Linked DNA regions of Homo sapiens: all the other regions are reported to be linked to region 1. The links are microRNA targets in miRTarBase. Many come from high-throughput screens and were not tested one by one. Region 1 holds a microRNA gene; each other region holds the end of a gene's coding sequence.
The links. The annotated mature microRNA hsa-miR-335-3p reads UUUUUCAUUAUUGCUCCUGACC and lies in region 1 at 3,623-3,644, shown strand. An mRNA with a match to its seed (bases 2 to 7 or 8) in the 3' UTR can be bound and repressed. Matches are read on the target gene's strand: a 7mer-m8 pairs with bases 2 to 8, a 7mer-A1 pairs with bases 2 to 7 and ends in A, and an 8mer does both.

Region 1 (7,120 bases):
CGGGACCTCCTTGGGTTAGGATTTCTAGACCCCGGGATCGTCGTGGTGAGATTTAGGATTTCTGGACCCCAGCGTCATCTTGATATGACTTAGGATCCATAATGACCCTGGTCTCACCCTGATGCGAATTGGGATTTTTAGATCCTGGCATCACCCTGGTGCGATTTAGGATTTTTATACTCAGTCATTGCTGCAGCATGATTTAGGATTTCTAACCCCCAGCATCGCCCTGGTTTGATTTAGGATATTTAGACTCCGGCTTCCCTCTGGTGCGATTCAGGATTCTTAGACTCCGCCGTTGCCGTGGCGCGATTTAGGATTTATAGATCCCGGCAAAGCCCTGGTGCGATGTAGGATTTTTAGAACCCCAGCATCGCTCTGGTGCGACTTAAAGGATAGGCCCCAGCATCGCCCTGGTGCGATGTAGGATTTTTAGAACCCCGGTGTCTCCGTGGCGCACCTTAGGATTTCAAGAACGGGATAATCGCAGTGCCGAGATCGCCGCGGTGCAGCTTAGGATTTCAAGACCCAGGTATCACGGTGGCGGGAGTCACCGCAGTGACTAGAACTCGCAGTGCCCGTCAGCCGCCTTAAGTATTTTTCAGATTTCAGTAACAAGCGCGAGTGAGAACGGCGATGTGACCAAACTGTCATGTTGCGCAGGGATTGTTCACCTTGGTTTCGCGGGTTTTCAAAGTGGTTCGTCTCGCGGCGACGCCATCAGGTGGGCGGCAGGTTGGGTGGTATTATTACGGGAGTGTGTTTTTCTGTTTACAAGATGAAGAAATCAAGGCTCAGAAATTTTTGGAAAGTTTGTTACTGGAGTTTGCTTATTGTCTCCGCTCATGGCTCATCAAATAGTTGGGATTTTGGCCAAAAAATGTTTGCTTAACCCATTTTGCCTACTGACGGCTAGGTTGCTTCACTTCTAAAAATCCTAAAAGTTCATGGGGGCATTTTTACTGAGGTAATAAGACAAAAAATGGCCCCCTGAGAGGTTGCCTCTTTGCTTTCTTGGAGTAAGAGGAGGAGGGTGTGGAGGGGGGTGTCCAGGAGTGGAGTATGTTGGTCGATAGCCTCGTTTTTTAACCCCCCACTTTCCCTGAGCAGCGGCGGGGAAGCCTCCCCATTTGCCGCTCTGGCCGCCCCTCCCGGGGCTCTCTGCTGAGTCACTGCAGAGATTCAGCTGCTGGAACCCCGGGGATGAATGCGATGAGAAGCACTGGGGGAAAGGAGTAATGAAATCTGCACATGAAAATGTATACATTGAAGTACAGGACAGATAGGGCTGGGCAAATGATCGTCAAAACCTAATGGTTTTTGTCATCTGACCTTTCAAGGAGATACTGGGATACAGCCTGCTATTGTTGGGTGAAAACTGTGATATAACCATCATGTTCTGGCACTTTTTTGAACCATTTCTAGTATTACCTTGAGAAGTAGGACCAAATGGTTCTATCCGTCTTATGGACAGGTACTTTGGAGAAAAAAAGAAATGACTGCCCTAATAATGCCTAAAAAATAGCCTGGGGAGCTGACATTGTTTAAGAAACATGGTTATTTTACCACTGTAAAACCACAGGCTTGTTTTTAGATTTTAGCAAAAAGTATCAGGGATATGGGGGGGAAAAGTATCTTGTAAGTTGAGGAAGTTAGCGAACGGGTAGGTAGATTACAGGCAATAGGGAAGAATGTGTGTACAGACGGAAAGCCATTTCCCCCAGGGCTTTAGCAATTAATTTATTTCAGCTCTATGACAACTCTAATTTTAGTTTTGGAGGGTATTATTTCCATTCTGGCTGTTTTGAGAGAACTTCCATTCTACTGACAATTCTTGATCTGTTGACCATCAGAAGTCATAGACTTGAAACAGAACGGTTTATAATTCCTGTTTGGCACTCCTTGTCAATGTGGATAAACTGACTTGTGCCTTTGAAGTCCTGGGCATGGGAGGGTTGGGTGTACCAACCAGTGCTCTTTTTCCAAAGACAAAATCAATTCTCACACGCTGGGTATGAGTTATGCCTTATCTGGGGGTGGGGGAGCATCTTAGGAAATTAAATGGAAACTTAAAGAGTCTGCTAAGAAAAGCAGAAATGTAATCTACCGCCTTGACCTCTCAAGAGATTAGATATTCAGGGTCATGACAAAGCTGCTTATGTTGGAATACACAGTGCAGCTATCTTACTTTCACAGACTGTTTACCCTGAGCAGTTTCTCAGCCCAAATCCAGAAAGGAGTACTAAATGGGGCTTCATTTAGGCAGGAGGGCTGAAAATCAGGAGTAGCTCTCTGCTTGAGGACATGTGATAAGTTACTACACACACACACTCTTTAAAACATGAGATATAGCACATATATATTTTTTGAACATTTTACTGGTTGGGGGTAGTGGGTAGATGGTAGAGCTTTTGGAGTAAATAAGAAAGAAGTTATTTTTTTCCTGGGAAGCCTTGATAAAAGTCAACGAAAGAGTGTCCAGCATTTAAGTCATGTCCCTTTTATTTATATAAAGTCCTCTTCAGCAGGTATTGGGAAGACCACAAGGGTAGGGGCTAAGGGGTTAAAGTCGGGGAGCAGAGGCAGAAGATTATATGTTGAAATAATGTATTTTTTTTCCTTAAGATTAGAATGATGAACAAATATGGTGAGTGCTATGGCAGACAGAGGTTTGATTATAGTCTCGGTCAGCTTTGTGCCTATGTGAAGGGCAATGTAATCATTGCATGGTAACAGCAATCTCCCACCCCATCTTACCAGGTTTTGGTTTGTAGATGAGTGGACAATGTTACCTGACTGCTTACAGTGGGTCTCTGCTTTTCCTACAGGATGAGGGAGTGGTGGGTCCAGGTGGGGCTGCTGGCCGTGCCCCTGCTTGCTGCGTACCTGCACATCCCACCCCCTCAGCTCTCCCCTGCCCTTCACTCATGGAAGTCTTCAGGCAAGTTTTTCACTTACAAGGGACTGCGTATCTTCTACCAAGGTAAGAAGTGGACTATTGGAAGTCCTGCGTGTATCGGTCACATAAGTCCCAGCTGAGGTATTTATTTTGTGGCTATTGGTCTCTTGTTGCTCCTTAATGATGGAGGAGAGTATCTCTCTCTCTTTCTGTGTAGTGTGCTTGCAGAGAAGCGCAGAAAACTGCTGGGAGAATGGGGGTAGGGACTGAGATTCCAACCTGCAGACCTTACCTTTTAGTATAAGTTTTCTTTGTAGCTTGATATGTATTCCAATATTAGTTTTTTTTTTTTTTTGAGCAACCTGTCAGGTAATATATAAAATATTAATAGATATAACCACCATTGGTTCTCTCTCCTTACCATCCCTGATTTCATTTTTTCTGTAGATTATTTGTAGTGTAACTGTGATTTAAGTCTTGATACCATTATATAAATTAATTTGCTAGTGATGATGATTATTATGACCACTACTTATCAAGTAATTACCATATGCCAGGCACTGAGTTATGTTTTCAGCCTTCATTGTTTAATCTTTACAACAGCATTTGGAGATAGGTGCCATTAACCTCATTTTATAGGTGAAGAAACTGAGAAACAGATTGGAAATGATTTGTTTTGAGCGGGGGTCAAGAGCAATAACGAAAAATGTTTGTCATAAACCGTTTTTCATTATTGCTCCTGACCTCCTCTCATTTGCTATATTCAATTAAGTAAGTATACAATTTTTATTATGTTGGCTTGGGTTACTTCCAGTTTTACTGTTTTAGAAAACTAATGTTGAAGTAAAAGCTTCATGTCCATACAGTTTATTTTTTCCTTACATTTTCAAACTATACTACTTGTATAAATGGAATGATTTTATTTGCACAGATTCTCAAGAACAAAACTCTTAGGCTAAAGTATATACAATTTTTAACTGCTTCTAAATTATTTTTGAAAACCTTATTACCAAATTTTCATGTCACTGGCAGTATATGAATATACCTGTTCTAATCCCATACTATTAGCAAGGTTAATATTGTCTAAATGTTTACCTAATTTAGATGATGCTGAATGCTTCCATATTGTCATATGCATTAAAAAAGTTCATGTTTATGTTGATTAAGCCCTTTTTATAGTTGACAGGATTTTGTAATAGTTTTATTATGTTTTTGATGTTAGATTGGGTCTCCTGCTGAATAAAAAGTGCTGAGCAAACAGCATAAGCTAAAGGTGTTCCTTGGGAATAGTTGCTGTATCTTAGAGAATTTCTGTGAGGCCATTCATGATAAAGTACAAAGAATTTGTAGTTTATGTGTTGTGATCATATGCTTTTAACTGAAAATTTACTTTTCACTGAAAAAATTTGCATATTACAGAACAAAAGGAGAAATGGGGAGATGCTGTTTAAAAACACCTAGGTGAAAGTAAACAAGGTGCCTTCAAGTATTTTCACATAGCATGATTTTTACAATGTTTTAATATACAGATTGAAAGGAGAAAAGGCCTGTTCTCACCTAACGCAGTTAAGCTTACATTTTACAAATAATTGTGTCATTTTAATGTCAATTTGGTCACAGTTGCTTGTTCTTTGTATCAGATTACTTAGATTTTAACATCTTCGAGGTTATTTTTATAGGGATTTGGCATAATTGATTGTACTTTCCTTCTTCCTAGACTCTGTGGGTGTGGTTGGAAGTCCAGAGATAGTTGTGCTTTTACACGGTTTTCCAACATCCAGCTACGACTGGTACAAGGTAATGAAGTCAGACTTCTACGTCCTACTATGTCTTAAAAAATCTCGGCCGGGCGCGGGGGCTCAAATCCTAGCACTTTGGGAGGCTGAGGTGGGAGGATGACCTGAGGTCAGGAGTTTGAGACCAGCCAGGCCAACATGGCAAAACCCCATCTCTACTAAAAGTATAAAAATTGGCCAGGCATGGTGGCACAAGCCTGTAATCCCAGCTACTTGGGAGGCTGAGGCAGGAGAATCGCTTGAACCCGGGAGGCAGAGGTTGCAGTGAGCTGAGATTGCACCACTGCACTTCAGCCTAGGTGACAGAGCGAGAGTCTGTCTCAAAAAAAAATTTTTTTTTAATAAAAATTTAAAAAACCTCAAGGATTTTGTTGTCAGCACCAGAAGGCTCTTGCACATTTGAATTGCTTTTAAAAAAACATTAAATGTTGAACTGTTCCTTATTTACTGAAGGGAATAAACAACTCCTTGGCACTCTGGAAGGGATCACTGCCAAGTTACCCTCCCTCAACAGGGATTAATTACCAGGAATAAAGCATTTTCCAAGAGGATCATCTGTGGGACCTGTGGTAGTTTCATGGCGTTTTCTCTTTATGGAAGTCTGTTAAGCCAAGATAGGGCTGAAGCTCCTGTGCAACTGTAGGTCTGGTGAAAGGGAGGGGCAGGAGCAGAAAGCCCAAATCATCGTTTCTTTCTTGTAGATTTGGGAAGGTCTGACCTTGAGGTTTCATCGGGTGATTGCCCTTGATTTCTTAGGCTTTGGCTTCAGTGACAAACCGGTAAGCAGCACCTATGTGGGGCTGGTGATGGGGTGTGGGGGCAGACGCAGACTATGAGGGTCAGGCTGGCAGAGAGAGCTGTCCTCATGACTTCATCCTGTGTATGTGGGCTTTCCTTTCCTCAGAGACCACATCACTATTCCATATTTGAGCAGGCCAGCATCGTGGAAGCGCTTTTGCGGCATCTGGGGCTCCAGAACCGCAGGATCAACCTTCTTTCTCATGACTATGGAGATATTGTTGCTCAGGAGCTTCTCTACAGGTCAGTGGAGCTTCAGACTTCAGCTTATGATGCTAGGAAAGTACATTGTTTCTGGACTGTTTGTATCCTTTTTCTCTCGTTTTCAGCGGTGCACTGGTTTAAGTTTGCTCAGCTACATGTGTGTTTCCTCGTCTCCCTTCTAGGTACAAGCAGAATCGATCTGGTCGGCTTACCATAAAGAGTCTCTGTCTGTCAAATGGAGGTAATTGCCTTGGCGGTAGGTAGAAAGTGGGTGTAATCTAGAAGGGCCATCTTTAGATACAGCGGCACCTAAATGGTAATCTGATAATATTTCAAGTAGACATAATTAAACTATGGGATCTCTACCTCTTCTGTGCCATCAACTCCTTTGGTGGTCTGACAAGATTTATGGACCCTTTCTCAGAATGTTTTAAAATAAAGAAACAAACAGCATTACAAAGGATAGTGACTTTACTTACATAGTCAATAAAAAGCTGCATTATAGTCACATGTGCTTTTTCAATGCATTAGATAGCAAGTTCTAGTGGAGGACCTAGTAACAGCTATATCAGAAGGAGTGAGGAGTGTAAAGACTGTTTGCCATATCTGAAACAACTGCAATAGGTTATGAGAGTGTAGGATTGAAGATACAGAAAAAAGCCACAAGTGTTTCTAATACTACTATGATGTTAGTGTAGAAAATCCTTACTTAATGTCATCAATGGGTTCTTGGAAACTGTGACTTTAAATGAAACGTTATAATGGAACCAATTTTTTTTCTCATCAATGTTTTAAAGAAAGGATGTTATTCAAGGACCTGCTGTACCTCATTCTGCTTAAAGCCGAAGTTTCCAAGAACCTATCCTGATGTTAAGTGAGGACTTAACTGTATGAGATTCCCCAACTCCTAACTGATGGCAGTGCCAAGTTTCAGTTAGAAAATACCGAACCCCTGATTAGACTTTCTGGGTAGCCAGCTTGCAAGTTCATGAATATCCAAATGTCTCCTGAACGCCTTAAGAGCAGACTGGGAGAGAAATCCGTCTCTCCCTTTATCACTTATGCTCATGGCTTTCTTCCACTGACTCTGAAGAGAAAGGGAAAAGGAAAAACTCTAGGGTTTTTAAAGGACCTATACTTATTTAAAAACTTCTTGTTTTATTCTTACAGCCCAAATCATTAACCCTCGTGTTCTGAGTGATAGGGGGAAATGCTAAGGGGAGTCAGAGCCTGGTTATCAGCATTTTGGATGACCATATATTTTCTCCCCGTTTCACTATCTTTAAGATGGGAAAAGTAATTCCAGTGGGATTTATTGTGACCAGTTAAACACAGAATTCCTGGAGAAGTAATTAGATGACAGTTTTAAATTGTTATTTGTAATTCTGTTTTGGTAGTAAAGGCTGCAGAGGTGATGGTGAAT
Region 2 (7,120 bases), not on the chromosome of region 1:
AAAATGTCTTACTGCTCATTAGGTGATTATTGACCAAATAGTTAAGATTGGAAATATTTTTTTTTTTCAAGACAAGAGTTTCACTCTTATTGCCGAGGCTGGAGTGCAATGGCGTGATCCTGGCTCACTGCAACCTCTGCCTCCCAGGTTCAAACAATTCTCCTGCCTCAGCCTCTTGAGTAGCTGGGATTACAGGCACCCACCACCATGCCCGGCTAATTTTTTTTTTTTTTTTAGAAGAGACAGCATTTTACCATGTTGGCCAGGCTGGTCTAGAACTCCTGACCTCAAGTGATCCACCCGCCTCGGCCTCCCAAAGTGCTGGGATTATAGGCATGAGCCACCATGCCTGGTCTTGGAAATTCTCTGTTTTTTTCACAGACAAGATCTCGCTATGTTGCCCAGGCTGGTCTTAAACTCCTGGGCTCAAGCAATTCTCCTGCCTCAGCCTTCCAAAGTGCTGGGATTACAGGCATGAGCTACTGTGCCCCTGACCATAAGACTTTTTTTTCGAGACAGGGTCTCTCATCACTCAGGCTGGAGTGTGGTGGCGCAGTCACAACTCACTGCACCCTCCATCTTCTGGGCTCAAGCAATCCTCCCACCTTAGCCTGCTGAATAGCTGGGACTACAGACGTGCACCACCATGCCTGGCTAACAAGATCTCGCTATGTTGCCCAGGCTGGTCTCCAACTCCTGAGCTCAAGGATCTGCCCACCTTGGCCTTCCAGAATTCTGGGATTACAGACATGAGCCACTGTGCCCGGCCCATAAAGTCTTTTTGATGCACAGATAATTAACAGATATGAAGGATCTTAATCAATTAATAGTTTTGACCTAATACAGCTTAACAGCAACAAGTGCCAAAATTTGAGGTCTTACTATGTGCACTTTACCTGAATCGATCCTCACATCCTATGAGGTATTATTATCCCTGCTTTTCAGATGAAGAAACTGAGGTTTACAAAGCTAGTAAGTGGCAGAGCCACGAGATTTAAACCAGGTTTGACACCAGTGCCCACTCTCTTCACCACTACCATTTGGGAGTACTGTCCTTCCAGGACAAGGAAGGATAGTCCTCTGCTTTTCCCAGAATTAGCAAAGGTTCTGATTGACTTGATAAGGTAGTCTCAATTGATACGGATGATAGGACTTTGAGGAGGGAAAGGTAATAAAGCTTACACTTGGTCATTTTGCTTGTTTCTGTTTTTCTCCTTGTGTGTCCAATACCATTATTGCATACAAAAATAAGTAAGGGGTGGGCAGTAGGGTTGAGGGAATATGGGTTTGTGGGAGGGGGAGATGAAGCAAGGAAGGGAAAAGAATATAGATGTGGTTGTAATTTCCCTTTTTCTCTATTTTTTTTTCTTACGCAGATAGACAGAAACCAGAGGTAATGGCCACTTCATCCACATGAGGAGATGTCAGTATCTCAACCTCTCTTGCCCTTTCAATCCTAGCACCCACTAGATATTTTTAGTACAGAAAAACAAAACTGGAAAACACATTGTTTGGTCTTGTGTTTCTTTACAGAGGTACCTGAGGGAGGAGAGACATAAATCCCTTCATCCCTAAGACTGAACTATGTAACTAGCAGCCTCTGGCTTGTTTTCTACTCCCTGTCCCTCAGGATAAAATGTTGATATTGCTCATTTTCCTCATTTCCAACATTGTTTTAAAACAAGTACTTCTTTTACAGGCTTGAAAAATCTCAAATAAACGCTAAGAAAAGGGAGTAGGAAGAACAAGGAGTTGAGCCCTTGAAAGATGACAGTGGTCTTCTTGCCTTCATGCTTGGCCCTCTCTCCTCAAAAGGGCAATGTTGGTACAAAATTCCATCTCAGCCACTTTCGAGGAGTTATCTTCATTAGCTATATCCATCCTTTAATCCAACACACACCTGCAATGATTACTGTGCAACTATTTTGCTTAATTTTTTATTTGAAAAAATGTATTTAAAAGTCCAACAACTTTTTAATATAAATTACGACTCTCAAACCCATTCCCATCACTTTATTAGTGATGGTAGCATACATATTAGAGAAGGTAGCTAAAGGCAAGAGAGCACCAAAGGAAAAAGACTGTCCAAAGAACAGGTATTAGAATGAGGCCGAAGATCACGGTGACCAGAGATTTCTAGGAGTCTCTAACCTTTCCACCCTATCCTGTTAACCCTTTAGATCTCTAGTATAACACTCAGGCTACTGAGGTATTTTAGAGCAACAAGCTGGGTTACTTTCAGAGCAACCAGCTTGACTGGAACTGAGAGTAAATTGGGAATGTATGACCAATCTTAGACCCTGAAAAATGGCAGAAAATACATGGAAATTTGAAAAAAAAAAAAAAAAAAAAAAAAAAAGAACCTCAGTCACTGTTCTGTAGGGATAAGCAAACTGAATGGGTGGTGGAATTGGCAGAATGGATACCAGTTCCTACATTCCTGACCCCACTACCATAAAACAGGATGTTTCCTGTTGCAAAGCTAATGAGACCCCACCCTTCTTGTCTCAGAGCAGGCAGGAGCTCATCTGTCTTGTTCTGCCTTCCTAATTACCCTGGAAGGGCCAGAACGAAGAACACCTGAGAATACTGAAAGTGCCTAAAAACCCCTGCTCCTACGTTGTTTTCCCATTTAAAGCAGACTCTTCAGCCAGGGGGCAGTGGGACCTGGTCTTCAGACAAAACTCCCTGAGTCTAATGTGTGTCTAGGACTAGGGCACAGAAATAGAGCTTAAAATTTGGGGAGGATAAGGAGTGTATCTACTGCTTCTCTCTCCCCTTTCCCCAATCCTACCATACCCTGTTCATATCTCTACACTGCAGGAACCACTTCTCCAGAGGGCAAGAATGGAGGAGGGGGACCTGTCCATCATAGCAACATGCAAACACAAGCAAAACACTGAATAAAGAATTGTTTGGAGATTATGTGCAGCCCTACTGAGCCTCATTTATATGGGCTCCTAGTTGATCCATGGCTCGGGCTTAAGATGAGTAAGATGATGAGGGTAGCGTGCCAAGCAGAAATCACTTCAGAGAAAAATATCTTGACTTTAGAGTTGTGGTTCTCAAATGGAGGCGATTTTGCCCCCTAGGAGAAATCTGGCAATGTATAGAGACATTTTTGGTTGTCATAACTAGAGTGGGCCAGGGTTGCTGCTAAATATCCTGTAATGCACAAAATAGGAAACAGGTTTTCCTTACAAAGAACACTTCAGCCCAAAATGTCAAAGGCATCTCGGTTGTGAAACCTTGTTCTAGAGCCTCTCCCTGCTCCCGTGCTGTGAGGATCTTAAGACTCCTAAACTCACAGATGATTGTTTTCAACCTATTTATCTCACCATCCTCAATGATCAGAAGTCCACCTTGAGATGGACTTACTCCTAGTTCTGCCGCATTCTGGGTTTCTTTCCAGACCCCTCTTCCTCCTCTCACCTGGGCCAGCAGGGAGGTTGGCAGAGGGCAGGAAAGATGCCCCAAAACTTAAATGGAATGTCATCAGGTGAAGAGCTACCTCTTACCTTAACTCTTATTCGGTGGGAAACAAGGTTCCTAATAGGGATAGAGTTAAGGGCGGAGGCAACAGCAGGATGAGGATAATTAAGAGAACCTGAATTAAATTTTTAATATTTTAAAAAAGGAAAGTTGCTGGGAAGCTGGTAAACAGAAACAGAAGATTAGAGGCCTAACTAGAAAGAGACACTGGTGTTAGCAGAGAGATATTGAGGGGCTGTAAGCCTAAGGTTTGAAATCTAAAGATAGAGTGGAAAAGGGAGTAGGCACCCCCACCAGCCCCTGCTTGACATCTGCTTTAGTTCATTCCAGCAGGAAGGAGGAGAAGGGCAGGGAGGTAGGGAGCTTCTCAGCAAAGCCAGCTTCAGCTTTGATAATCTCACCCACCTACCCCATTTAAGGAGTTCCAGGTTTAAGAGTTTAAAAACAGGTGGCACCCAGACCATCATTCAGGAGACAGGAACTCATTCCAGGTTCCTAGAGAACTCCTATCTCAGACCTGAGGGTTTCCAGGGCTTCAGCTGAGCTCCTCTGGCTAACCAGTAGTCACTTGATCAGTCCTGCTGCCTTGACCCCATCTCCAGGAGGGGCTATGGCCAGAGGGAGTAGAGGGAGTCCAGCCCCCAAGCCTTGTGAGGCACTGTTAGGCAGATAGGGAAAAGAGGGGTCCTTAGATCACTGGTTCAAGGAGGGATCTGGTAGGGGCAGCATTTCTTCTGGGCTGGAAACAGAATGGGGGTTTCAAGATGGCAGAACCTGAAATAAAAAAAAAGTTTTTCTTAAAGAAGATTAGCCTCAAAGAAAACCAAGGCTTTAGGAAGAAGGCACTACCTAGTGCAGACTTTAAGCTATTTCCACAGTGTGTTCTTTACTTCTGTCTGCACAACACCCTCTCAGTCTTTCTATATCCTACATTCTTTTTTTTTTTGAGATGGAATCTCACTCTGTTGCCCAGGCTGGAGTGCAGTGGCGCAATCTAGACTCACTGCAACCTCCACCTCCCGAGTTCAAGTGATTCTTCGGCCTCAGCCGCCTGAGTAACTGGGATTACAGGCGTGTGCCATCATGCCTGGCTAATTTTTGTACTTTTAGTAGAGACAGGGGTTCACCATGTTGGCCAGGCTGGTCTCAAACTCCTGACCTCAAGTCATCTGCTGACCTCGGCCTCCCAAAGTGCTGGGATTATAGGCGTTAGCCACCATGCCCGGCCTAGATCCTACATTCTTGAATCTTCCCTTCTAATTCCTCCCTATCTCCCATTCTTTTTTTATATTTTGAGATAGAGTCTTGCTCTATCACACAGGCTGGAGTGCAGTGGCGCGATCTCAGCTCACTGTAACCTCCGCCTCCCAGGTTCAAGTGATTCTCATGCCTCAGCCTCCCAGGTAGATGGGACTACAGGAGCACGCCACTGTGCCCGGCTAATTTTTGTATTTTTTGGTAGAGACAGGGTTTTGCCTCGTTGGCCAGGCTGGTCTTGAACTCCTGGCCTCAAGTGATCCACCCATCTCGGCCTCCTAAAGTGCTGGGATTACAGGCATAAGCCACCATGCCCGGCCACACCTCCCTTTCTTGCATAAGATCAGGGTTCTGAGTCAGGGTATCAGGTTGTGCTGTTATGGGGGCTGAGGTGTTAGATGGGTTTCTCTAATCACTCACCATTCCATTATTGGAGCTATAAGCCCCTAGAATTGCTCCATGGCCTATCTCGGTTTCCCTTGGATCTCATCTGCTCCTGAACTGCACCTGTCTGTAAAAAAACAGATGCGAGACACCTTCGTAAGTCTTCATATCCTACAGTAAGAACTCTACTTTGTGCCTTCCAGGGAAGAGGCTGACGCCATCTCCTTGACAATAGCAGCCATCTGCTAACCACCATTCCTCCTAGGGGAGTCTCAATGCCTCTTTTCACACTGGCCTTCATGAGGATGAGGTAAAATGGGTCTTTTACTAATAATATTCCCTCACAATGGATTCTCCCCTATATATCTGAGTTTCAGGATCTGAGAAAAGACTATCTCTAGACCCATTTCCCTTATTTTGGGAACAGAAGTGCATCTTAGACATTATTTAGGATGAAGGTACTCAGCTTTTTTCCTGTCCCAACACTCCTAAATATATGATTTACTGTGGCACTGAGATAGCAGTTCTTAATTAGGAGAAGGGAGAGTTATAAGTTTTTGGAAAAAGCCCTCCAACTATTAAGATATATATACCCCCTACCCCAGTGAAGAACAATCTGCTAAGTTGTAAAGATGAGAGAACCTAGGCCCAGACACCTAAAATGCCAGGTCTCGGGTTTCCACAACTGGTGACCAGGACTAGAATCCCAGGTTTTTACTTCCCCATTGAGTATTTTCATATGTCCCTAGCTTGAACTTTCAAAAAGAGGGAACGGTTATAGACCTCACCCCTGTATCAACCTCTCCCCATTTCCTTGTTACCATGGCAAGTCCATCTCCGGCCCCCATCTCCCCTGAGCCAATGTGAGTCAGGTGAACAAAATTCATTGGTTCCCCAATCATGGTCCGGTCAATCCGTCTTCTCTTCTTCTTCTGCTTGGAGAAGATAAGGAGTCATGTCTTAAGGCCCCTCCTCCAGTCAGCACGGAGGAAGGGAAAAGAGTCTTCAAAACCACTGAAAAGCTAAGGGCCTGGTGGGAAGAGGGGATGTGGCATTTTAACAGGGAAATCACTAGGGCATGAAAGGCAAAGCTGGAACAACAAAAGCACACAGAAGACATGAACCAGAGTAGTGAGGGCAGTGGCCTGCAGAGTGAACACTGGACAAAGAAAGGACATGTCAAAGTCACCTCTGACTGATGATGAAATAATGGGGAAAACTGACAGGTATGCAGCTCCACCTACAAACCCCACCCAGCTCAGAATGGACAGGAACAGGAGGTAATAGCTAGGACTATTCACTTCTTCCATCACCCAGTCCCCTTTGTTCCACATATACAGCTGCCTGACCATAGAAGCTCCTGACACAGAGGGAGGCAAGAAGTGTGCTTTTTTAGATGGCAGATCCTAGATGGTGTGGCTACCTCACAGCACACAGTAACTGACTGCTCTTTGGGTTAGGATGGGGGGTGGGGAGACTCACCGGCTGGGGTTTCTCTACCACACAGCAGCCCAGTTTGTGCCAAAATTCACTCATGTTCCCTGATGGTTCCAGCTTCACTCCGCTGTCTGAGGCCCCAAAGGGCTCTTTCCCTGGTGTTTGGACAACCCACTCCTCACTCTCCCCAGATACACCACCACCCTGGGTTCACTCAGCTGGATGGGTCCAGACAAAGTGGAATCCCTGGAACCTTTAACTGAGCAGTGAAGGTCAGTGTCTCAGAGCCTGAGAGATGAACAGGACCAGAGAGAGAGGTGGGCAGGCAGGCACAAGGTTATGTCTTCCTCAGACTCGGAACCCTGGATTAGAAGAAAGTAAAAAGAAAGATCAGTGAGAAATCTCCCCCTCCCCCAATCCTTGAGAAACCTCCTGATGAGCCTATATCTTCCCAGTCCTCCCTGAGAGGCCCTAGACCTGTACACCAACACTCATTCCCAAACACTATGAACCTCAGTTTGACTCTAAAAAAAAGGAACAGAACCAAAAG
Region 3 (7,120 bases), not on the chromosome of region 1:
AATGAAAATGAAGATACTGTAGAAGTATATCAAACCTAAGAACACTTTCCCAAAGTACTCTTAGGTCGGAAATGAAGACCACTGCCTATGGCAGCATTTCCTCTTCTTGGCAGAGGCAAAGTAAAGAAATAAATCCCAAAAGTCACTCAACAATTCTCAATATATTCCATTTTGAGTTGCTATTTAAGTTGAAATGAAAAATTGTACATTTATGTGCTAAAGAACAGAACAATTATTACAATATAGACATGTACAGATTACTTGTTAGATGAATTTAAACAAAACAAGTTAGTTGAAACTTAACTGAAAATTTTTCCCCTTTCAGTCTTTGTGGTGGGAACGACGGGCTTTTCCACTGAAGGGTGAAGACATGGCAGCCTTATTATGTCAAGATGAAAAAAAGGATCAGGTTGAAAGGTCAAGCACAGCTTTCCATGGTGAAATCTTCGGTACCAGTGTACCAGAGAATGGCCACCATCCAAAAAAGCAGTCAGATGGAATGGAAGAATACAAAACCTTTGGTCTAGGACTTACTAATGTTAAAAAAAATAGGTGACAGGGAACAGGTTAAGAAAACTATGTAAATGTAGGAAAGATGGGAGGAAATAAAGCCCTGTTCTGGATCCCCCATCCCCTCCAGAATAAGAGCATGTTCTGCATGTATTAATCTTTTATGCTGTTTATGAAACAGGCAAGATAAGTCTGTTTTTCCTTCTGGAACCATAAGGGTAACCAGATTTTCATCTACAGACAAGTGGTAGTCATTTGTGTTTATCATGCAACTTACTTACAAACACCAAGATATTAATTGCTGCAACTTGATGTCAAATCACATTACTGGGTAATTTTTAAGACTATGTACCCACACCATACATACATACATATATATATACACATACATACAAACCTGTGTGCCAAGTGACAGCTATTTTTTTATATACATGGTAATTCATTAAAATTGCCTTAGTAATATATTAGAATATACAAATATGTGTGTATAAAATAAACATACACACACACACACACCCCTATGTAGTTTTTAAAACACTGGCAATGACCCACTCCCCTTGGAAATGCATGTATGAACTACCCTATGAAATGTAAGCTGCAGAATAGATAAAACACAGGTTTCCACTAATAAAAGACATCTGAACGTCCTGAATATAGAGACAGAAGTTTTTTGTTGTTGTTGTTGTTGTTTTAACATGTTTAACCAACAGAAGTTATTTACAGAAATTCATATATCCAGGCAACACAAAACTCCTTTATTCAAAATCACTGCTATCTTTGGGACTAAACACAGGCTACTTTCTGTTTACTCCTAACAAAATAAAGCAAGCAAATTTGAGTCAAATATTGGTGCACTTTAATACTATCACATCTTTGAAAACTCAATTTGAGTTTTACCAATTAATGTGTCTCATGAAGAGAAGACACCAGTTTTAAAATGAGCCACAAACAGTAAAGCCCTATCAGTATAAAATTTGAAAAAAAAAAAAAAGATGATTGTATTTCTAGATTAGCAAGAAATTAGTTAATTCTGGCTGATTTCTATTTCTAGCTAATTTGGTCATTCTTTGCCATAGCTTACTCTATTCAAATAAACATATATTCTTGCTTGCATCCTAGATTGGAAATTAAAATTTTTCAAAGAACAAAGCTTCAATATTGGATACTGAAGAGTATACATGAAAGAAAATTCCTTTTGAAGCTATTAAACCATTTTTTTCCTATGTGAAAGTTGAGGACAATTTATATAACTCACTTTTTGTCATGTAAAAAAGGTTACTCAAGTTGTACTACCCACATAACTGAAAATATTGGCCATTTGGCCTTATCTGTGAGATTTGACACTAAGTTTTTGTTAGAGATTGGAAATTATACTAGTCCTTTTAAGGGGTAAAAAATTCAATTCAATACTGACAAACTTTTGCTTGTAGTTTTACTGTACATTTATTTTTAAAGAAAAAGAAAACAAAAGCCAGACAAACCCAAGTTGTCCAGGCAAATAAACTCAAATCTTTGTCACGTCTGATATTATAATCTTCTATGTAAGTTTTTTAATTAAAGTTATTTCTATATGCCGTGTGTTGCTTGTTATTAAATGCGACGTATTCATGGCACAAAGCTTTCCCAAGCTGAATAAAAACAAACATTAACAAATTTTTACCTTGTAATGCAGGAAGAAACCCAAGCAAGCTCTAGTCTGTGCTTAAGTGTTAGCATTCTTATTTTTTGAACCTTATTTCTCAAAACTTATAGTAGCCTCAAGAAGTCTATTGATATTGGTCATGTTTATTTCTTGCCATATTTATAACACAGCAAGAGTATTTACAGGAATGAAGTAGCTGACACATATTTTTAGACTCTGTATAATTCAGAACAGTTATAAATATTTAGTTTATGGATTGACTCTGTATCCTGTCATCTTTTCGCCTACCTGATCTTTCTTGGAATAAAATAATATATCCTTGGGGTCAAGATCCATAGTTCCAGAATTTTCTCAGCCATCTGGTTCTGCTACAGCGTAAAATTAGACTGGAAATAAGACAACGTTAAGTAAAAAGCTTCTTTTACCTAACCCACCTCCCAAGGGCTCCATTTGTAAAAGTACAGACCAGAAATTCTACCACTTCCCAGATCCTTTCCAGGGTACCACCCTATTAAGCATTAATTTCTTCATTTTTTAAATGGGGACAAAAATATCTGCTTTATTATTACCACTTACTTATAGAGGTGATTTACAGATTTAATGAGAATATATCAAAGTACTTTATAACTCACAAAAATATAAACTTATATAATGCTGTTTACTTTGTGTTGAGCATATTCTAAATTCTGGGACTAGTACTGGAAACTTTACATATATAGTGTTAGCTCTTAATTCTCAACAGAACCCCACAGTTGCTATAATTACATTTAATGTATAAATGACTTTAGAGAAACACAAAAAAGATTGGGTGATTTGTTAAAGGTCCAGCTAGAAAGGGGCAGTCAGAATTCAACCCAATATTACCTCCAAACAGAGGTTTTACTTTTTCCTTTCTACTCAGAGCTAACACAACAGCATTATTTAACGTTCTTAAGAATGGTGGGGAGGAATCACTGAATAACCTGCTTTGACAAAACACCCTGATAAAATCTATGCTTGTATTTTAGAACCCCTGGGTTTCACACATTGTTTTTATAGTTTTCACACATCAAGTGTAAGGTGAAAAGTGATAGATTTTAAGAACCAAGAATATGGTATGCACCCCACCCAAACTTATAAACAAATCACAATAACATGAAATAGAAAAAAACCATAAAGACTTCCTTTGCTTTTGGAAAACAGCTGAGAAACAACAAAATTCTTTTCAGAAGTACAGACAAAATTTGTTTTTGTAGTGTAGCTAATATGCCCTCCTTAGACATTAAGACACTTTTCTGTTTGTAACCCTAATGCAGCCGTATTTTTACTTTATAAAAATCAAATCTCTCAATAAAAACAGTATCTTACTCACTAATCAATAAATTGCATCACTAAAAATGTAGTTATACACACCAATTTCTGACCTCTTAGAATATTCTGCACAATCAGTTTTAATCACTGGAATGAATAACTGCTCAAAAAAGCAGTACGGCTTCAATTGCATTGTGATTTGGTAGTCAATATTCCTGTTTTCCAGTAAAAGGGAGATTTCATGAACAGGAACACTGGGCTCCTTATGGTTTCACCGATCAAGAGAACGTTTCTGAGCAGCTTCTGAGCAAACATTTCTTAATAGATTGATCACAGATCTGGGGTCTTCACTCCTCATAATAGCACTGCCAGACACAATCATGTTAGCTCCTGCCTGGAAGAAGTAAACAGTTAGGTTATGCCTCAAAGGAAAATGTAGAAAAACCTAAAACAGAATTCCTGGACTAGAGTGTCTACCCTTGCATCTGTCAACATTTCAATCATATGAGAGCCACTTTGAGATTAAGCAGACTTAAGCAATCTAGTTCAATAAGAAAAATTTAAAATGTTCACAGATGAGGATGTCAGACTATTTTTAAATGTGTCTAAGAAATCATTGACCTTTCTGGTAAACCAACTCTTAATAATCTACATGGTATCTTTGCGACCTTTAGATAAGGTTTAAAAGCCTTTACTCCTCAAGTCCACTAAGGTTTTTCCCAATATGCACCAATGCCTCTACAGTTACTAAAAAAACACTTTTATTCTTTGAATTATATTTATATGAATTTGTGAGTGTGAAAGGACAATTATTGCTAAAAATGTAAAATTATCCATAAACTACGGCAAAATTAAGTGAGTTCTCGTTTTTGTGTCAAAAAATAGAATGTCTCTTTATACTTCATTGCATTTCAGAATGGTTTTGAAGTGGCTTTAAAAAAGTTTTTAAGATACATTTAAATATGGAAGCAAAGAAATTGAAAAAGAAAAGCTAAAAAATTGGGTCCAAATTTAACTCTGATCTTCCTAGGATCTGATTCAAGGATGGAAACCCAATCTGTTTTGTGATTCATTGCTAGAACAAAGAGGGAGAAGTGGGAGAACCACAGGCTGAGGAAAATTTTTCCAGACAGATAGTGTCACTTCATGTATGACAACATTTCTAACAATATTCCTCACAGAAATTATAAAGGTGAGTTTTATAGGGTTAACACTGCAAATATTCTCTTCAGTTAACCCATTTATGCCTAGTGTTCCATTATTGGAACGCTAAGCTTGTGGGAGTTCTTCATATCCTGCTGTTTAAGGTCATCGCCAAGGTCTGATTTTTCACACAAAAAATTTGCTACCTCTGGCATAAAAGCAGGAATAGTATACTGGCAAAGCACAGTTTAGTACAAAGCAATTCCACAAGCGATCAAAAGGATATGAGCTCACTCATCATCTGGCCAGCCCCTCCTGCATAAGTATTTACTACTGTCAAGCTTTTGATAGGTATATATCAAGCAGAAACGTGTGGCAGTTATACAAGAACCTGGAAGTAGATACATCACACTGTGGAAGAAAAGCAGTCATGTAAGCTTTAATCACTTGCAGTGCTACCAGAAGGGCTGGCATCCTCAGGAGCCTGACTATGCTAGACTAGCTATCTGAAAAAAAAAAAAAAGTAAAAAAAAGTTTTTACTTCTATACAGATAGCCAAAGAGGTATCAGGCCTAGATTTTCATCAAAAATGGTTCTAGCAAGTTCTTACAAGGAACAACTAAATAATATGTAGGTTCTAAAGAATAATGTAATAATTAGGTCAATTAGATTTATCTATTTTCCCCCCTTGGTAGTACCTTTTAATTCCGTATTTTGGAAAAATTTCTCACTTCCAAGGCCGTGAAACTTAATGATCTTCCAAAGGGCTGAAATTCAACATATTCTTTTATAAAAAAGAACTTTCTTCAGCCTTCCTGAGAAAACCAGGATTTACAATTTTAACAATTTATGTGATTTTAGAATATCCACTTACGGGCCAGACGCCATGGCTCACATCTGTAATCCCAACACTTTGGGAGGCCGAGGCAGGCAGGTCACTTGAGGTCAGGAGTTTGAGACCAGCCTGGCCAACATAGTGAAACCCTGTCTCTACTAAAAATAAAAAAATTAGCCAAGCATGGTGGCAGGTACCTGTAATCCCAGCTACTCAGGAGGCTGAGGCAGGAGAATCGCTTGAACCCGGCAGGCAGAGATTGCAGTGAGCAGAGATCACGCCACTGCACTCCAATCTGGGCCACAAAGAGAGACTGTCTCAGAAAAAGAAAAAAAAAAAAAAAAAAAAAAAGCATATCCACTTATGGCTGTTTATTTTCCTAGTTGTACATGTGAACAAAAAATACTTTTCCAAGAAAGAAAGTCAACTTAGGAACCACAGAGGGAATCGCTGGCCCATGAGACAATGTCCTGGAGACATATTTGACGGGAAATTGGTCTAGTCATAGTTGAAGAGCAATCTCACCTCTGCACATTTATGGACAGTGTCAGGACCTACTCCACCATCGACCTCTATATCCAAAGATGGGAACTGGGTCCTCAACCAGTGAACCTAGATATATACATGAGGAAATAAGTAACTCCTAAAGTGGGTATGTTGGTGGGGGTGGGGGTGGGGGACAATCAAACAAAAAAATCCAACAGCAAATATTAGCAATTAAAACTCCAATTGTCTCACACAATAACTATACCAATACAACATATTACTGGGGAACACTTGGTTTTTAATAGCAAGCTTTGTTCTATTTGGCAAACAGCAATCTGTATTGTCTTTGCAGAGACTGTCATGTAAACAAGACAGACAAATCCTCAATAGTCAATGACAACTTCCAAGAGATCTAAAAGTTAGAGATAATAGTTTCAAAAGGAAATTTCAAGACTTCCAGGCGTGGTTGGCTGCCACCTGTAATCCCAACACTTTGGCAGACCAAGGTGGGAGGACAGCTTAAGCCCAGGAGTTCAAGACCAGCCTGGGTACGTAGTGAGACCTCCTCTCTACTAAAATGTGTAAGAATTAGCCGGGCATGGTGGTATGCACCTGTAGTCCTAGCTACTCAGGGGGCCGAGGCAGGAGGATCTCTTGAGTCCAGGAGGTCAAGGCTGCAATGAACCCTAATTGAATTACTGCATTCCAGCCCAGGTGACAGAGCAAGACTTTGTCTCAAAGAAAGAGAAAATTTCAAGATAAAGATGTAATACTTCTCTGATTTCCAAATCAGAAATCTATTACAGCATTTATTATACTGTATTAGAATGATCTGTAAGCATCCCCATCTCCTCACCTTCAGAACAGGTTATGCCTAAATATACAAGCCTTTCAATAAATGCTTACTGAATGAACACACTGTAAAAGCCTCACCCCAAAATCAAATACTTCTTTTACCTTTGGCATCATATCTTCCATGAATTTCTGCCCTCCAAACCCCGGTTCCACTGTCATAACCAAGGCCATATCTATCTGATTAGCCCATGGTGCCAAATACTCAACTGAGGTTCCTGGTTTGATGGCAAGGCCAACCTGTAACAGACACAAATATGCTATATCACATTTACAATTACTTCTGTATTATATTATTGTGGCATAGCAGGCCCAGTAGAAATATCTGTTCTTATTTTTTAAAAGTTAACAAGACTATTAAA
Region 4 (7,120 bases), not on the chromosome of region 1:
TCTGACATTTGGGAAAACTGGGGCCCTGAGAGACTGGGATTTCACCCTGGCTCTCCTGAATCTTTTATGTAGTATTGTCACCAACCTTGCATTTTAATAGCCTCCACTCCCAGGTAGGGCAGCAATTCTTGCTATTTACCAGGCCCAGCTATTGACAATAAGAGAGATCTGTCCTCTCAAAAGCAGTTCAAAATGTCTCCTGTCTAAACTAGATTAGCAAAACCCAGAAGGTCTTCTGGACTCAGGATTAGAGATGAGAATGGGCCACGTGTGTCAGAACAGGCAATTTGGCCGGGCACAGTGGCTCACACCTGTAATCCCAGCACTTTAGGAGGCTGAGGCAGGCGGATCACAAGGTCAGGAGTTCGAGACCAGCCTGGCCAGCATGGTGAAACCCTGTCTCTACTAAAAACACAAAAATTAGCCAGGCGTGGCGGTGGGCACCTGTAATCCCAGCTACTTGGGAGGCTGAGGCATGAAAATCACTTGAACCTGGGAGGCGGAGGTTGCAGTGAGCCAAGATCGTGCCACTGCACTCCATCCAGCCCGGATGACAGTACGAGACTCCGTCTCAAAAAAAAAAAAAAAATTTCTGCCTGTGAGCTGGGGAAGATGTGTGTCCTCCACCTTACCCTGCAGCATTCACTGAGGGCCACACGTGCTGACCCTAACAATTGCTGCAGACCCTAACAATTGCTGGGCCATTCAATACCTGAGCATGAGCCAGCAAGAGATGATGTGAACTGGCTCTTCTTCTGTGTGTGGGTAGACAAGTTCCTTACCTTTGCTGGCCTCAGTTTTCTCATACGTGAAATGTGGATGCCACTCTTCCTCCCTGCAGGGGTTGTGGTGGTGCTCTAGAAAACACAACTTGCCTTCCTCTCCGTGCCTGCCCTTTCTCCAGCATGCTCAGAGAGTGCAAAGGATTTGCCAAAGAACAGTCATTTCCTGTTTTTTGTTTGTTTGTTTTTGAGACAGCATCTCACTCTGTTGCCCAGGCTGGAGTGCAGTGGCTATGATCATGGCTCACTGCAGCCTCAACATCCCTGAGCTCAGGTGATCCTCCCACCTCAGCCTCCCAGGTAGCTGGGACTACAGGCATGCACCACCACACCAGGCTTTTTTTTTTTTTTTTTTGTAGAGGCGGGGTTTCACCAAGTTGCCCAGGCTGGTCTCGAACTCCTGGGCTCAAGGGATCCACTTGCCTTGGCCTCTCAAAGTGCTGGGATTCCAGGCATGAGCCACTGTGCCCAGCCAGTCATTTCTGTTTTAAAGGGGGAATAAATGGCATGCTCAGGAGTTTCCAAGGCGTGGACTGGAGGCAGCCTTGCGTTGTTGGGGATCTTCTTGAGGAGGGAGGGGTTCCAGGAAGCTGCAGGGTGGGCAGCCCTTGGGAATGGCTCCCCTCCTAGTGAGCCCAGAGGCCTAAGGAGGGGTTGTGGGGGTGGGTACAGAGGGACTTGGATCTAAAGCAGGAATAACAAGAGGGCTAAAGCTCCTTCTGCAGTTGCCTCCATTACCATCAACACTGTCCTCAGCACCTATCCTGAGGCTCCCCCAGGGGCAGTGGCACTCACTCCCCACGTGAGCAAGTGAAAATCAGACTCAGTCCCCTCAGCATCACTGCTACATGCAAAATCTCCACCTGTCCCAGCCGCCCCGCCTTGCCATGCAAGCTCAAATGCCACCCCTAGAAATTCCCAAACATCTTCAGCTCTCAGTCAGGGATCACTGATCATAAGGATCATAGATCCCTTAGGGCTAAGGCAAATAGCAGCAATAATGATGTGGACATATATTGGGTCTTACAACGTGCCAGTTCTAAGCATTAGACAGGTATTGATTCATTTAATCCTCACATCCACACTGTAAGTTGGTTACTACTGTTTACCTCATTTTACATATGAGGAGATCAGGCACAGATTTAGTAACTAACACAATGTCACACCACTAGCAACTTAAACTCATTGAAGTGAGAACAAACAGGAGATTAAACATAGCCAGAGGATGAAGACGGACAGGAACAGAGGTTACCACTAGCTCTTGGTCTCCTTGGTCCATTTCTGCTCTTTCTCTGCCGGCTTTGTTCTTCTGCTTGTGTCCAGCTCAACACAGTCACCCCAAACCGCAGTCTACAGGGTTTTCCAGTTCAGGTACCCACCATCTCCTAACTTGTTCCTAATTCATGGAATAGAGAATCTGACAGGAGAGTCAGCTCCGTCCGGTGGTGTGCTGGTATAAGTCTAGCAGTTGACTGGGGAAAAAGAAAGCCCTGATTTATAGTGTTGGCCAATATCCATGGTGTAAATCCCACCATGGCTGATTTCAAGCTACCAGTACTCCCTGAATGCAGAGCTTGGAAGAGGTGTGCACAATTTTCTCACATGAATCAGGACAGCCATTATGCACCACTGGCTGCACCTATGTATCAAGTCAGAGTCAGGTGTCCACCCCTGGCCAATCGGCTGTGGCTGCAATGGGGTCATGTGACACAAATATGGCTGCCAGAGCCCATCCTTTCATGGCAAAGCAGGCTATGGGAGGTCAATTTCAGAGAAAGAGATGAGGCCCCTGAGATTACTGAAAACATGCTGGTTCTTGGCTACCACACATCCATTTCCTCTTCTGATAGTAACACACTCTGGTTTCCTGTTAGGGAACCTCTTGTGCTTCAGAAAGTAAAGAAGGTGAGGGCTTCACCCTCTACTCCAGGCTTAGAGCATGGGCCCTAGGCCCAAGCCAAACAAGCACACAACATGATGCAGTTAGAACCAGGAAGACCCAATTAGACTTTTGCTGGGTGCTATGGTTTGAATGTGTCCCCCCAAAAAAACATATGTGTTGGAAACAACCCCCAGTGCAACAGTGTTAGGAGTTGGAGCCTAGTGGGAGTTGTTGGGCCATGGGGGCTCCACCCTCATGAATGGATTAATGCTGATTATAAAAGGATATGAGGCTTCGAGTTCCATTTTTCTCACTCTCACCCTCTTTTTGAGATGGAGCTTGTTCTGTCTCCCAGTCTGGAGTGCAAATGGTGCAATCACGGCTCCCCACAGCCCTGACCTCCCAGGCTCAAGCAGTCCTCTCACCTCAGCCTCTCAAGTAGCTGGGACTACAGGCGCATGCACCACCACACCTGGCCAATTTTCTTTTTCTTTTTTTTTGTGGAGACAAGGTCTCCCTATGTTGCCCAGGCTGGTCTCAAACTCCTGGACTCAAGTGATCCTCCTGCCTTGGCCTCCCAAAGTGCTGAGATTACAAGCATGAGCCACCAAGCCTGGCCTCACCCTCTCTTGCTCTTCTGCCTTCTGGCATGAGATGACATGGCATGAAGGCCCTCACCAGATGCTGGCACCATGCTCTTGGACTTCCCAACCTCCAGAACTATGAGACTGGAATTTATCATGAACAGAATGAAATTTCTGCTCATTATAAATTACTGAGTTTGTGATATCCTGTTATAGCAGCATAAAACAGATGAAGACACTGAGGCTTTTGTCAGAGAGACAAGAGGCTTGATTGCTGGAACCCTGGGGACTGAGAGACTAGAGCTGCTGACCCCACAGGCGCCTCAGGCTGAAGCTGACTCAGAACAGAGTGGAGAGCTGGAGACACATCCTTTGAGCCCTGAAGCTGGCCTGACCACTGTCCTGTTACATAAGCCAATACACCCTTGTTTGGATTGGACTTTCTATCACTTGCAGCAAAGTCTTGACACATGAGGACTGTGAGGACTCAGGGAAACGAGTTCGAACCAATGATGACCTCCATGGTAGATGACCTCCATGATGACCTTCCATGGACAGTGGAAGCACTGTCCCCCTCACAGTGCTTCCACAGGGCCAGACATGATAAGCTTTTGGGGATTTTATTACTAAATTTCCTTCCTAGGCAGTCAAAACATTGACTCCTATGGGGAAAAAACAATGTATGACAAGGATGTCTTGGACTCCCCCTCCAATCACTAGAATCACTTCCACAAATCAGGCACTCATGATGGACCCCCCCCCCACATAGGTGGGGTGCCCCCTCAGGGAGCAGTGGAAGTGAGACTTATTGGTGGACCTAGTATATCCAAGAAGGCTCCAGAACTAGGCAATGCTGGGTCAGTTTATGTCACTGCCACTATACTGCAGCATGATCCTTAGCAAAGGGCCTCTCTTGGTTTGCTGCCCACTTCTTAGGGAGTTGTGAGGCAATCAACATAAAGCACTCAGTTCAGCACCTGGAGTGAGGCCAGCCCACAGTGAGAGGCCACTTTCTTCCTTCTCCAAGTCTGGGGGGCGGGGGAGGGGAGAGGAGCAATGGAAAGGTGCCCCCCAGCCCTGCCCTCGCACAGAGCACGCCAAACACCACCGCCACCCGGGTGCAGGTACAGTTTATTCTTCACAACAGAGAAATACAAAGAGCAGAGGGTTTGTAATTCCTTTGTTTCTTGCCCCCTTTAGTGTTTTCCCCCCACATTTGATTTTCATTTGCTCCCCACTCCCTTTTTTAAATAGAATGCAAACTACCTTCCTGAAGTGTCTGAGGGGCACCTGCCCTCACCTCCCTGCCTCCAAGATGCAGACTGAGAAGCCAACAGACTGTTTTTTCTTTTTTAATAAGGTAACTAGTTCTAAATATGGTGGCCTGGAGGTCCCATAGAAAAAGCAAAGGGGTGTTAACAGTATGTATAACAGCGTATTTACAGGGAGTAACATGCGGACAAAAAGCTACAATACTGAGTATCAGACGACGCAAGTCAAACAAAGGGCCGGGGGTGGGGGCAGAGAACCCCATGGGCAAAGAAACCCCAGGAAACGTTAAACTGGTAAATCAATGGCGAGTTAAGGCTTAAAAAGTGTATAAAAATAACACAGTTAATATTCAAAACGGAACTCCAGATACAGAATATATAGATGAGTTTCTGTCTAGTTTTCTTTTTTTTCCCGGGGGGATGTAGGGGGCTTCTCTGGGCTCTGTACATGGTTCCTATATACACCGACACGCATGGCTTTCAGATTGGGGTGTGTCTGTGGGGGCTGGGGGCAGGGTCTGCTCCTGGGACCTGCCTCCCCGGGGATCCCTTCCCTGCTGAGGGGCCTAGGGCCTCGGCTGGGGATTCCCACTCCATGGCAGGGAAGACAAATAACCCCTCCCTGGGCACTGCCCCCATCTGGAGGAAATTCTGGAGGGAGGTCCCAGATCCAGGCCCACTCCCTCCCCATCCCCCTGCCCACAGTCTGGGATGGTGGGAGAGGTAGCCGAAAGGTTTCCTGGCCAGCACCGAGGTAGACTGGGGTGGTCTTCAGGGCAGCAGGGGAGGGCCAGGTCTTACCCAGCCCATCCCCACCCCATTTCCCTGGGCCCGCCACCCAGCCCATCACTGCACCCTTTGGTCCTGTGGATCTCCCACCCCTCTCGTTTCTGCCTCCTGAAGCTGCCGCACCCCTCTGCTCAGTGATGCCCAGGGCACAGCTCGAGAGGTGCGAGCCAGGCACTCAGGGGCGAAGGGCTCACTCCGGCTGCTTCCTGCCCCTCCCACCTGGGGGTCCCCTTTGCAGTCCAGAAACCTAGGCCCGAGCCTTCCCTCAAGACCTGAGGCCATGGCAAGAGAAGGTCCCACATTGCCCTCTGGTTCTCTGCGTCCATCTGTCCGATTCTTTAAATTTCTCGGTCTTAGCAGCACCAACTTCCTGGCCAATAAATATCTTTTCTGTTATTTCCAAAACAAACTTAAAAAAAAAAAACGAAAAAAAAAAAAACAGTGAAGCAAGTGAAGGGTGGGGAACAAAAAGAAAACTCAACAGAGAGGTTCAAAGTGCTCTGAGATCGTCTTTGGATGCCACCAAAACAGTCCAGAATCTTGCAGTTGGCCTGGCCGCCCCCGGACTGGACCAGGCAGGGCTTCTGCGGACCAAGCTTTCTGGAAGATTGGGAAGGTCGTGAGAGAGCTTGGTGGTTCCTGGAGGGCCCCCGGAGGGAGCTGGGGCCTGGTGCTGCCTGGGTCTGTGTCTGCCAGTGGGCCGGGTGGGGCGGCGCCTCCAGTGGGCTCAGATGAGAGAGATTCGCACCGGGATGCCGGGGGACTCCGTCCTCTGGGGCGAGTGATGGCTCACCAGGTGCTCCACCACCGTGTGTTTGGACATGTGCTTCATCAGGTAGGTCTCCTGTGGGCAGGGATGAGATTCAGAACAGGGAACCACCAGCAAGGGAGGGAGAAGAGGCTGCAGTTCCCACCAGCAGCCACTGGAGGGCTCTTGGTAGGCGGTTCAGAGGGTGGAGGACAGCCACAGTTTTGCAGGGTCAGATGGGCGTCGGCCATTGGTTCTAGAGACACTGCACTGCTGCCAGTATGAGTGCTGGCTGGAGAGCTCACCCCTCAGCAATGCCCACCTGTGGCTCTCCAGGGCCAGGCCCCCAGGCCCTTGCCACCTGGATGTAGCTGGGTATACTGGCTGAACCTCAGCCCTGTCTGCCAGGTGAAGCACTGTGCCTGCATCTGGCTGGTGATCCCAGTGACAGTGAGGCAGCAGGACTGGGTCTGAGCCTAGCTCTGCTCTTTCTTAGTGGTGAGAACTTGGACAAGTCATCTTGTCTCTCTGAGCCTCAGTTTCCTCCTCTGTAAGCAGGCATAGGGGAGGAACAACCTCAACAGGTTGCTGTGGTGACAAAGATCAAGCCCTTAGCATGGAGTAAGGGTTGAAGGGTCCACTCCTGCCCCAGTCTCTACATTTCCTTTCCTTCCTTTTCTTAAGGTCTCACTGTGTCGCCCAGGCTGGAATGCTGTGGCACAATCACAGCTCACCACAGCCTCAACCTCCTGGGCTCAAGCAGTTCTCCCACCTCAGCCCTCCAAGTAGCTGGGACTACAGGTGGGTACTATCATGTCCTCCACTGGCTCTGCTGGATCTGACCTGAGGCACCAGGACTGGGTAGGTGAGGTTGTGACCCAGGGCTCACTGCAGGCCCAGAAGCCCTCACACTAAGCCACATCCTTCCAATCGCCTTTGCCAGAAGCAGAGGCGGTACTCCCACCTGCCACTCCTTGACTTCAGACCTCAATATGCTCAGAACCCAGCAGAGGAAGCCCTCAAATGTGGCGGCAACATGCTATCCAATACCAGAGGGAAGCAAC

Region 2: the mRNA of C1orf56 is a reported target of hsa-miR-335-3p. Seed matches in the 3' UTR shown: 7mer-A1 at 1,703-1,709, 7mer-A1 at 1,943-1,949, 7mer-A1 at 2,302-2,308 and 7mer-A1 at 2,331-2,337.
Region 3: miRTarBase lists KANSL1L as a target of hsa-miR-335-3p. Seed matches in the 3' UTR shown: 7mer-A1 at 1,486-1,492.
Region 4: the mRNA of ZNF362 is a reported target of hsa-miR-335-3p. Seed matches in the 3' UTR shown: 7mer-m8 at 4,469-4,475.

The regions. Positions count from the first base shown.
Region 1 is chr7:130,492,540-130,499,659 of GRCh38, forward strand. MIR335 (microRNA 335) reads left to right here and starts at 3,572; the gene lies at 3,572-3,665. MEST (mesoderm specific transcript) reads left to right here. Exons shown (of 12, transcript NM_002402.4): 2 at 2,829-2,983; 3 at 4,617-4,696; 4 at 5,397-5,474; 5 at 5,600-5,736; 6 at 5,880-5,938.
Region 2 is chr1:151,049,062-151,056,181 of GRCh38, forward strand. C1orf56 (chromosome 1 open reading frame 56) reads left to right here. Exons shown (of 2, transcript NM_017860.5): 2 at 1,377-2,359. The coding sequence ends at 1,397. It overlaps CDC42SE1 (CDC42 small effector 1), which reads right to left. Exons shown (of 5, transcript NM_020239.4): 2 at 6,616-6,932; 3 at 5,955-6,065; 4 at 5,170-5,260; 5 at 1,924-4,266. The coding sequence starts at 6,669. The coding sequence ends at 5,186. Among named protein-coding and RNA genes, the nearest start is that of C1orf56, 4.9 kb to the left of the region's middle.
Region 3 is chr2:210,016,385-210,023,504 of GRCh38, reverse strand. KANSL1L (KAT8 regulatory NSL complex subunit 1 like) reads left to right here. Exons shown (of 15, transcript NM_152519.4): 15 at 326-2,084. The coding sequence ends at 556. It overlaps RPE (ribulose-5-phosphate-3-epimerase), which reads right to left. Exons shown (of 6, transcript NM_199229.3): 4 at 6,864-6,998; 5 at 5,946-6,032; 6 at 1,245-3,836. The coding sequence ends at 3,714. Among named protein-coding and RNA genes, the nearest start is that of KANSL1L-AS1, 10 kb to the left of the region's middle.
Region 4 is chr1:33,297,962-33,305,081 of GRCh38, reverse strand. It overlaps ZNF362 (zinc finger protein 362), which reads right to left. Exons shown (of 9, transcript NM_152493.3): 9 at 4,363-6,152. The coding sequence ends at 6,036. Among named protein-coding and RNA genes, the nearest start is that of A3GALT2, 20 kb to the left of the region's middle. RefSeq lists an enhancer at 4,750-5,699 and a silencer at 6,131-6,311.